Regions from separate parts of the Homo sapiens genome. Here region 1 is linked to region 2. The links come from fine-mapping of genetic effects on gene expression. A gene starts in region 2. The other region holds a variant in brackets. All regions are shown on one strand. Distances are between the middles of the regions.

What was found. PIP is the estimated chance that this variant, and not a neighbour inherited with it, causes the effect. A credible set is the group of variants that fine-mapping cannot tell apart.
Region 1: its variant is the best candidate, but not a certain one, in a credible set for the expression of TTC39B in whole blood (INTERVAL, PIP 0.59).

The regions. Positions count from the first base shown.
Region 1 is chr9:15,165,769-15,171,154 of GRCh38, forward strand. It overlaps TTC39B (tetratricopeptide repeat domain 39B), which reads right to left. Exons shown (of 20, transcript NM_152574.3): 20 at 1-5,386. Among named protein-coding and RNA genes, the nearest start is that of TTC39B, 140 kb to the right of the region's middle. The variant C/CAAAA (reference allele first, on the strand shown) is at 2,651.
Region 2 is chr9:15,303,909-15,309,294 of GRCh38, forward strand. It overlaps TTC39B (tetratricopeptide repeat domain 39B), which reads right to left and starts at 3,308. Exons shown (of 20, transcript NM_152574.3): 1 at 3,176-3,308. The coding sequence starts at 3,217. RefSeq lists silencers at 922-991, 2,873-3,192, 3,223-3,562 and enhancers at 1,946-2,509, 3,073-3,635.

The sequences.
Region 1 (5,386 bases), 140 kb before region 2:
TGCCCCCATGATTCAGTCACCTCCCACTGGGTCCCTCCCATGTGGGGATTATGGGAACTACAATTCAATAAGAGATTTGGGTAGAGACACAACCAAACCATATCAACCACACAGCACTTCAAAATAATACAATTCCTTTAAAAATGAAATAATATTCTTTATTATACTTATTTTTTATTCAAAGTTTTTGGCTACAAGTCTGCTACACTGAGACCAATTTATTTCTTTCCCAAATGGTGCCCAACAGACTACCAATAATTAAAACTAATTTACTAGAAAATACTAAGCAGCAATAAAACTGAAGGTGTCACTGGGATATGCCAGCACCCCTTAAATTTGTTGTTTAAATTAGTGTTTCTAAAAACTATGGCATTAATATACAAGGTATATTGTATGTTAATATTCAACAAGTTTCACATAATGAAGTTTGTTATTAAAGTGCCTTAATTTTCCCTATTAAATATCCAATCTGTAGGCATTCTTTTCAGTTAAATACAGTGAGCCAGCTGCTTTGATTTTTCCATGTGATGTCCTGTTACAGTATTACTGTGCTAAACACATATCATGGGTACATTGTAAGCAGAAGGGAATGGGGTGTAGACTTCCTCTGAAGCTAGATCCACCTATCTCCTCTGGATAATTCAGGCCAAGAACCTGCTCAGCCATCTCAGTCCACTAAACAGTCCTTGCATCATTTCTTTCTGCAGTTATGAAGTTACAAAATGACTAGAATGGACTTCAACAGTCCTCTAAGAGGACAGTCTGTCAAGATCAGATAGCAGCTGCTCAACATAAAAGATATCTTCCCTGATGATAAATTCTGATGTGTCCTTTTCATTACATTTCAAGTTCAACATTTCAAAATAACTAAATCTAACAGCAAATGTGTAAAAGACAAAACTACCAACAATAGGCAGCAGAAACAAGCAATCTAACACTTAAAGACAAAAATATGTAAATAACTGGACTCGGGGAGGAAGGACTAGGATAAGAAATCCTGCATTTCTTTGGAAAGAACTGTATAAAACAATGTCTATTTATTATTTGTAAGTAGTTTTGTATATAGCTATCTATAGATACATGTATCTTATGAAGAAATATCTGAAGAGATTTAAAATGTCTTAATTATATATATGCATATCACTTAGGTATCATACACATTCAAAAATAAATTATTCTCTAAATGGGTAACATGTGTCCACAAACCTTTATTTTATATATATATATATATATATATATATATATATATATATATATATATTTTTTTTTTTTTTTTTTTTTTTTTTGAGACAGGGTCTCACTCTGTCACCTGGGGTGGAGTGCAGTGGCATGATCTTAGCTCACTGTAGCCTCAAACTCCTGGGATCAAGCAATTATCCCACCTAAGTCTCCCTAGTAGCTAGGACTACAAGTGCACTCCACCATGCACGGCTCATTTTTTTTTTTTTTTTTTTTTTTGTAAAGACAGGTTCTCACTGTATTGCCCAGGCTGGCCTCAAACCCCTGGTCCCAAGTGACGCCCCCCAACTTTGGCTTCCCAAAGTTTTAGGATTACAGGCGTGAGCCACCATTGCCAGCCTCTAAAAACCTTTAAATAGTAATACTGGCCTAGTTGAGAAAGTCAGTGTTGAAACATTAATAACAAAGCAATGGAAAAGATTCCACTAGATTTCTCAGAATAATTTTATCTTAGAAAATATTGGGCCAGGCATGGTGGCTCACGCCTGTAATCCCAGCACTTTGGGAGGCCAAGGCGGCCAGATCACCTGAAGTTGGGAGTTCGAGACCAGACTGACCAACATGGAGAAACCCCATCTCTACTAAAAATACAAAATTAGCTGGGCATGGTGGCACATGCCTGTAATCCCAGCTACTTGGGAGGCTGAGGCAGGAGAATTGCTTGAACCTGGGAGGCAGAGGTTGCAGTGAGCCTAGATCGTGCAATTGCACTCCAGCCTGGGCAACAAGAGCGAAACTCTGTCTCAAAAAATATATATATTAATCATGAAATCTATCTTCTCAAAGATGTGAATCACTCTTCTATAACTCTAACAACTGTACTTTGTAAAAAAGAATGTCTGTAAAATCAAATTAAAATCATCATCTCAAAAATAAAATTTCTTAATCTAGTACATAAGGAGTTTGGCGGAGGGAGGGCAGAATAATGTTCAAATATGCCAATGACACTGACCATCTGCAGATAAACACGATCAAATGAAAGTTTAAGGGCACTTTAAATAGAAAAAGCAAACTTCACAGATATGTATGTGAAGCACAAATCAGGTGATCATAGTAGACAGCAAGTAAAAGCCAGAACTCCGCAAAGCAGGCTATTGGGAGGCCTTTAAGAAGTGCAGCACGTATGAGTGAATGCTTCCTCAGCATTCAGCACCATTCCCACATGTGCTGTAAGCCATTCCGGGTGCTCCGCAGCCATGTGTGGCGAGGGGCTACTGTACTGGACAGAGCAAGACTGAGGGGAAACAACACGGTTTACAGGCTCATGAGGGCAAGGTAATTTTCTAAGATCCATTCCAGGCCCAAGGAATCACAAAATCTTAGGGTATTAAAACATCACTGGAGTCTTCGTCAACTCATTTTAACTAAATGTATTTGAATTTAAGATTTCTAAATATGCAGAGTATAAATA[C/CAAAA]AAAAAAAAAAAACAGAAATGGAGGGAAATGAATGAAGCATTAGATAATTCCAGAAGATTTTCCAGTTAGCCACAAAGATCTTTTTAAAAATTATTTTTAATGTCCAAGCTGGAGGAAAACCCTCCTATTTATGAAGATCAACAGACTAGACTCACTTTAAAAAGGAGTGGATCACGAGTTCAGGAGATCGAGACCATCCTGGCTAACACGGTGAAACCCCGTCTCTACTCAAAATACAAAAAATTAGCCAGGCGTGGTGGCGGGCGCCTGTAGTCCCAGCTACTCGGGAGGCTGAGGCAGGAGAATGGCGTGAACCTGGGAGGAGGAGCTTGCAGTGAGCAGAGATTACGCCACTGCACTCCAGCCTGGGTGACAGAGCGAGACTCTGTCTCAATAAAATAATATTAAATTAAAATAAAATAAAAGGAGTGGAAAGTATTAACACCGGGGATTGTTAGTGTCTATCACAACTACCTCTAATAGTAGCTTTGAAAGAGAAAACATTCACTTTTATTTGAAATGGTAGGGGGGGAGCATTTTTTCTTTACACACTCCCTGCTGATTTGAAGCCCTAATAAAAGAATCATAGAGTGACCTCAAAGTTCAACTAGTCTAAGCTTGCAGGACAGGCAGAAATGACAGTCACATTAGCCCTGCTTAAACTCACCCCTTTGCAGAAGAACTGGTTATTGATTTTAGACTGTTGGGTTTTCCGATAATGAAAAATCTTCCTCGGCACTGATTAATCTGGAATTCAGCTTCCTACAGCCTTTATCCACTTGTCTCATTTCTGCCCTCTGAGGATAAAGACAGGATCAATGGACTTAATTTTCCTATATAACTTGGAAACTTCTTGTATCAGGGAGCATAGAAAACATTAACATATATGTCCAGATAAGAGCTGATACAGTTCACCTTTCATTCCTTGTCAGGGGGAAATCATGCCTTCCTTGTCACCATTCCTACAAAGCACAAAGTTACTTAAATTTATACAGCACCAATCAGAACCCTGCCTCTCCATTAAGGAAAAAAAAAAGGCAATTATGCCAGGAACTACATGAATTGCACTGTCAGACACAATGGCAACCCAACCCCATCATAAATGCCCCTCAAAAAACTAGATAAAACTGTCACTTCAGTATTCATTCTTCACAGAACACCCTAATGACTCCAAAATGCAATATTAGCTGATGCCCAAGAAGTTGGTGCCACTACAATATCTTGAACATAGCAGGAAACATAAATATTTGTAGCATTTTGATATTACAGTACTAAAAGATCCACTGGATATACTGTCCATAGTATCAGGTAACTGCATAAAGAATAGGAAACAAAAATAAAACAAAATATAAATAACAAAAAAGATTTTTAAATGGAGATGAATTTCTTTTATATTTGTTTAGTAATGCAGAGTTAAAATAAAAATGGCCACTCTAAGCTTAAAACTGTTTCATTTTATCCCCAAAAGAGAATTTGTTACTGACTTGCAGCACTGACTTGCAGCTTCTCACAGTAACAATGTAAGAATATATGCTCAGTATACCCACAGTCACAATGTGAGTGTGCGCTTTCAAAAATAATGTTACCAAAGCTCTTCTAAGAGCTTTTTTCCAAAAAGCTTTTTTTGGAAAACTTTTTTCCAAAGCTATACACAAATAATTTTTAATGTATTTTCCACTACTAATTATAATGACAGTTAATTTTATTTTCTATTTTGTCTGTACCTAAAGTTGTATTACTAATAACACATTGATATCTACCGCCATTGATATCTATCTTTCATTGGATATACATCCTCAGTGTTGGTCAAGAATCAGTACCTTGAAGAAAACAAGCCACACACTGCTTGATACAGGTCCATGTGGCAGGGAACGGCAGGAGCAGGTTCATATAACCTGGGTAGCCTACTGTCAACATCAAACACATGAATACACAGTAAGGTATTTGAATTTCTACACTTCTTTCATTTTACAACACAAACCACAGTATCAGCCAATACTTTTGTGTTGATACTGTAATCCAGACATAAAAAACCATAATTATTATAATAATTCATACTTTTGTATAGCCTTTTACAGTTTACAAAAAGCTATCATATGTTTTATCTAATTGAGCCCTCACAAGTACCAAATACCACACCGCTATCCATAGTGGGGCAACTGAACCCCTGAAAAGCTGAGCTACGTACTCCGTGTCATGGAACTATTAACCCACAGAGATGAACTCGTGACTCCCAATATGTGGCTCCTTCTGTTAAACTGCAGAGGCTTCTATGACAAGTTATTCTTCAAAATGGAAATAGAAATAAGGCCCAGATTCATCAACTCATAAATTGTCTTTTCTCACTCTGGATGCCACAACACATACATGTGGGGAGTTGGGGGCAATGATGATGATTGAAAAATAAAACACTCCAAGTGGGAATGGTTTGCATTCGACATTTTAAAGTCATTTGTTGAAAATAAATACCTAATACATAGACTCACAGTTATAAAACTGAAAAAGACCTTGAAAGTCATCTGTTCTTTAATCTTGATTTCACAGAAGAAAATGTGGTGACACACAGGGCACAGTGGACTCCCTAAAGGTCTCCTCACTAATCGCTAATGGGTAGCAGAACCAGGACCATATGGAGTGTCAAGCTCTCTTCTGCTCTATGCCCTGATTCTGTTTCCCAACTAAAGGACTAAGCAAGGTCCAGATTATCTACAAGGAGACATCACAGTGCTAGAGAG
Region 2 (5,386 bases):
ACAGGCATGAGCCACCACACCTGGCCTCATATGAGAAAATTTTTAACTTAATTAGCTGCTAGATATTAATTCAAATACTGTCAATGTTTTCCTTTTTGGCACTTGAGATAATTATTGGTGAGCTGAATAATCTTAATTGAATTAAATAATAAAATATAAATGATTTTCATTCAATTCTCAAATCCTTATATTTGAGGGCCAAATATAAGCAAGCCACAAGGCACCCAATGGTAGCCCATAAGTATGTGAAGGTAACCAACTAAAATGACTTCAAGATCAGGCAACTAGAGAGAAAGTCTTCCAACCACAGCCATCTCTACGTTATAAATTTGTTGGATTGACCTTGAATATATTCTGTACATCTTCCATGAATCCATTATCAATGTTGCTAGTGTAATACACAAGAAAACCCAATGAGAGAAATTCAAATATTAAGAAACAAGCTTTTGTTGATTGAGCTTTAAATGGCCACACACCATTATAATATCTAAGATGCTTGTGCTCCCCAATAACCAATTTTTGCCTCCAATGAGGATGCAAGTCCTAACTTCTATGCTCCCGAATTTATCATACTAGCACCTAAAAAACACAAATTAAAAAATCAATTTAGCCAAGAAAACCTCCATCCCACAGCTACCATGGGAGCTTCTCTACCATTATCATTCATTCCTTGGGTACTTTTAAAGAAAAAGATTTCCATATTATTAGCCCTTCTCCCAAAAGAAACTCCCTCTTCCCCAACCTCCCCCCCGACCCCTCTCCCCCATCTCAATAAAAACCCAGATCTTTAGAGCTGGAAGAACACTTAGGGCTAATCCAGCCCCTCCTTCTTCAGATAAGGGAACTGAAAGAGCCCTCTGAGGTTGACAGACTTGCTCAATCAAGGTCAACAGTCATGGGAAGGACCTTGTCTGTCTTGTTCACTGTTGTACCTCCAGGCTAGTACAGGGCTTGGCACCTAGTCAGCTGTTTACACACATAAGTGATGAACAAAGAGAAGAACCAGGTTACCTAAAAACCTAACCTGGTACTTTTCCAACTATATCACTTTGTCCCTTTTAACTCCCCCAGAATATCAAATAATGGCCATTAAAAACTATCAATATCAAATAAAGACTATCAGACTCTTCTTAAATACGTGAAAAGCTTCCTAGCTGAAATAAGCTATTTGCGCACCCAGTAAAATTGAAGAGCAGGGTCTTATGAACTCGAGGTTAGAGTTCTTCAAGCCCATTTACGGTAAGGGACTTTCTACAAATAAATCAAGGGTATCCAGTCTACAACACACTACTTCTTACTTGCTTACATTTACTTGAGCTCCTTTTTAGAGTTCTTGTACCCAGGTCATATCTCCCTAATCAGACTGAGAACCATAAAGAGGCAAAACTATGCCTTCTCTAAGGCACCTACCAAGTTTGAGCCCAAAGTAAATGCTCAATAAACGCTTGCTCAGTTTATAGCAATGGAAGTGGTAAACTGTGAGGGACAAAAGTAAATTTGGCATGAACAAAGAATTCAATTTGTATTTTGCTCATCAACTAGGACTAGTACAGTACCTAGCATGTAACAGAAGCCTAATAGTTAATGAATGAAGAAAAATAAATGAATGATATGGCAAAAACTGAGTTGTTATTAAGCAACATCTTTTCTGCAGTCTTTCATTCATTCAACAAATATTTATTTACCAAGTATCTGTGTGCCAGGCTCTCTGCTACTCTGAAACCTAACTTCCACCCAGAGTTTCACCCACAGAAACCTAACTTCCCTCCTCATCGGCTAATGCATCTCAACCGTTCATCTAGTAGGCAGTGAGCATAGCTGGGGTGACCATTTGTCAAAGTATCTCCGAAACAGTCCCAGTTTACACCTATTATCCCAGTGTTAATTAATAATAGCACCGCCTCAACAATGCCCTAATCTAGAGAATTACATAGTTCTAAGCACAGCAAATCTCCTACAAACAGATCGGGATTCAAATATTTCATTCTACAGTCTTGGGATCCTCAATGCAAGGGACAGGCTGTAAGCAAGGGTCTGGACAGCCCGGCTTGCCCTCTTGTCTCTCTGTCATGCAGAGGAGCTGTAGTTCAGTTTTTGTTTTTTGTTTATTTTACGGAGCACATTTAAAGTATAGTCTTCCTTGTCAGGAGATTCCTGGCACTAAAGAGATGGACGGGAAACTTAACCGCCTCCTCCAGATCGTCCACTATTGCATCATTTGAAACCAAAGCCTTCTAAAGGCAGCGACTCGCACAATTCAAGTCAGGTAAGATGGCAGGAACAGCAGCTGTGGGTGCTGGCTGCTGCTGGAGCCTCGGTCTCAACTTCAAGAGCAGGGAGAGCGCTGTCTCTGGAGTTGCCAGGTGCTGAAATGAATAGTCAATAAATCAACAGGTCCGGCGCGCTAGCCCCTGGGTGCTCAGGCCCGGGCGCGCCACGACTGAAGGAGTGGCTAATTACTCAAACACAGTTGAAACCAAAGGAGGCCGGAGTCGGTTCTCAAAGTGGTTTCCCTCCGGCCACCACCGACTCTGAGGACCTGCTAGGGGAAGTGTCCCGGCCCCGTGGAGGGAGAGGGAAGCACCACAGCCTGGGCTGCGGCTCTAGCCCTCCAGCCCCAGCCCCTGGCAGCCCTGCCCTGCTGTCGCGGCAGGTACCCCTCTACTCATTGTTCCTCAGGCTGCCCCCTCTTTTCATCAATCGTAAGCCTTTCGGTTCTGCCACCAGGAAACTTCCATAGAAGGTGAGATTCCCAGGTCGAGGGATGATTCCACGAACACCCAGAGAGCCAGTGCCAGGACTTCAGGGTCAGACTTCGTAAAGCCCAGGCGTCGCTGGGCCGGCCCGGAACAGCTCAGAGCTGCGGGTCCTATGGTCCCGCGCCCTCACGCCCATCCAAGTGCTGGCAGGACGTGGGTCCTCCATCCCCACGACTCGCGGGGCCGGCGCTCCGAACCTCGGCACTGCGTCCGCTCCGCGCGCCGCAGGGACCCTCCTAGCTCCAGCGGGGACAGACCTACCAAGGCCGGGCGCCCCCACCCGGCGCCCGCCAGCCCACCCCAGAGAGGGGACCAAGGGGGCGGGGCCTCGGCCGTCCTAGCCGGGCTCACTCTTCTCTCCCGGACTCCTGTCCAGGGCTTCAGGGGCCGGGCCCGCAATCCCCATCGGATCGTACCTCGTCCGCTTCCAGCTCCGCTCGGCTGCCTAAGAGCGCCATATTCCTCCTCTGGCTGCTGCCACCCAAAAACCAAGCAGGGAACTCAGAGCCGACTCCTGCTCTCGGCTCTGGGCTCAGCCCAGCGCAAAGGAGGGCAAAAGGGGACGGCCCGGCGCTCCCTCCGGGTCTCGGGCGGGGCCTGAGTGCAGCTACTCGATTTCCCCGCCCCCGGAGCCGGCAGGCCAGCACAGCATCCATTTCCTCCCCGGACGCCGCGCCGCTGGCCGGGCCACTTGCCCGGCCCCCAGCGGGCGGCAGCCCCGCCCAAGTGGGTGGAGTCACCTCCCAGATAAAGTTTCCCGGTCTGGCACGCCCTCTGGGAGGGTTTCCTAAGCTTTCCTGCCGCCTGTTCTCTGCGGTGGCTGGGCACACCTGGAAAGAAGCTAGAGAGCGCGGGCATGACGAAGCCAAGGTCAAAGCAGCGCCCCACCTGGGGTCCGTGGAAGCATCCACCTGGTCTTTGGTCCGGTGCCAGTCCTTTTCCCTCGCCAGGTGGCCACCGCATCTCGCAGATGGTGTGGCCTGAGGGCAGCCTTGGGTCACGGTCACTGGTCCCCGAGAGGCCTCTGACACACCACCCACCTGGACTGTAGGTGGAAGGACTCTGCTTGCTTCTGTGTTCAAAAAATAGAAAAAAACGCGGGACAGAGATTTATACATATTGGAACTCCTCTACTTCCCCCTACCCGGACAGTGTATTCTCCCCATAGCATCCTGTATTTTGTAACTCCAAACATAGGTGTATAATTCGTGCTTGAACTATAAACTCCATGGGGGTAGGATGCTATCTGTCCTCTTCAAGACTGTATCCCCAACACCCAGAACAGTGTCTTGCACATCGTAGGTGCTCAACAGATATTTGTTGGCTGAGTTTAGAAACTGAACCTTGCTTCTGACATGTAAAATAACTGGAAAATTAAAAGCTAGATCTTTAAGAGTTTGGGGGAGAGAGGTCAGATTTACTTTACATACAGAAAAATGCACCAAGTTAAATGTGTGATTCAGTGACAAGTGTTTACAAAGCATCCCAGTCATAATATAGAACATCCTGAAAAGTTTTCTGTGACCCTTTGCTGTCAATTTCCTACCTCCGCTCCCTAGCCTCTGTCAATCACTGATCTGCTATCAACATCGATTTGCCTTCTCTAGAATTTCATATAAATTTAATTAGAGCATGTGGTCTTCCATGTCTGGCTCATGAAAGGCTATTTAATAGTCATCCAGTGATAACTGTAAAAACAGCTAATAGTTCTTGAGTCCTTACTATGTGCCAGGACTCTACTGAACCTCTTGCATATAGTATTTCATTTATTCTTCATAACCCCATAAAGTAGGGTGCTGTTCTCTTTCAGATGAGTAAACTGAGGCTCAGAGAGTTCAAGTAATATGCCTGAGGCCAGACAGCAGTTAAGTAAGTAGGGATGCCAGCATCTGAACCCCAGCAGTCTAACTCTAGGGCCTAGCTGATAACCATTGCTTTGTACTGTACTGGCTCTAGCCACCCTCCCTCTCTTTCTTTCTGTGTCAGTAGAGCAGTTGTCTGTGCAAGTCCATTACATACATTTTCAGTGAGTCACTTTGCATCCTTAATACTTGCTGTACAATTTTAATGGCTTGGCATGTACTTTTGTACTAGAATAATAAAATGGTTTCTACAGCAGAAACATTGAAAAAATGGGTTAGATCGTGTGATGGTTGCTCAACTCTCTGAATTGTCTAAAAATCCTTGAATTGTGTACTTACAATAGGTGGAACTTATGATTATGTAAATTATATCTTAGTAAAGCTGTTTTAAAAAAACTAGCTGACACAGGCTAGGTGTGGTGGCTCACGCCTGTATGGGATTACAGCACTGGGAGACTGAGGAAGGAGGCTAACTTGAGTTTAGGAGTTCGAGACTAGCCTGAGCAACATAGCAAGACCCAATTTCTAAATAATAATACTTTTTTTTTTTGAGAGACAGTTTCACTCTCATCTCCCAGGCTGGAGTGCAATGGCTCGATCTTGGCTCACTGCAACCTCCGCCTCCTGGGTTCCCACTAATCTGTAAATTGCTTAGAAGGAGGCACTATCTTATTCATCAGTGCAGGTACTCAATAAAAAAGCTCCAGGTGCAGTGGCTCATGCCTGTAATCCCAACACTTTGGGAGACCGAGGCGAGCGGATCAC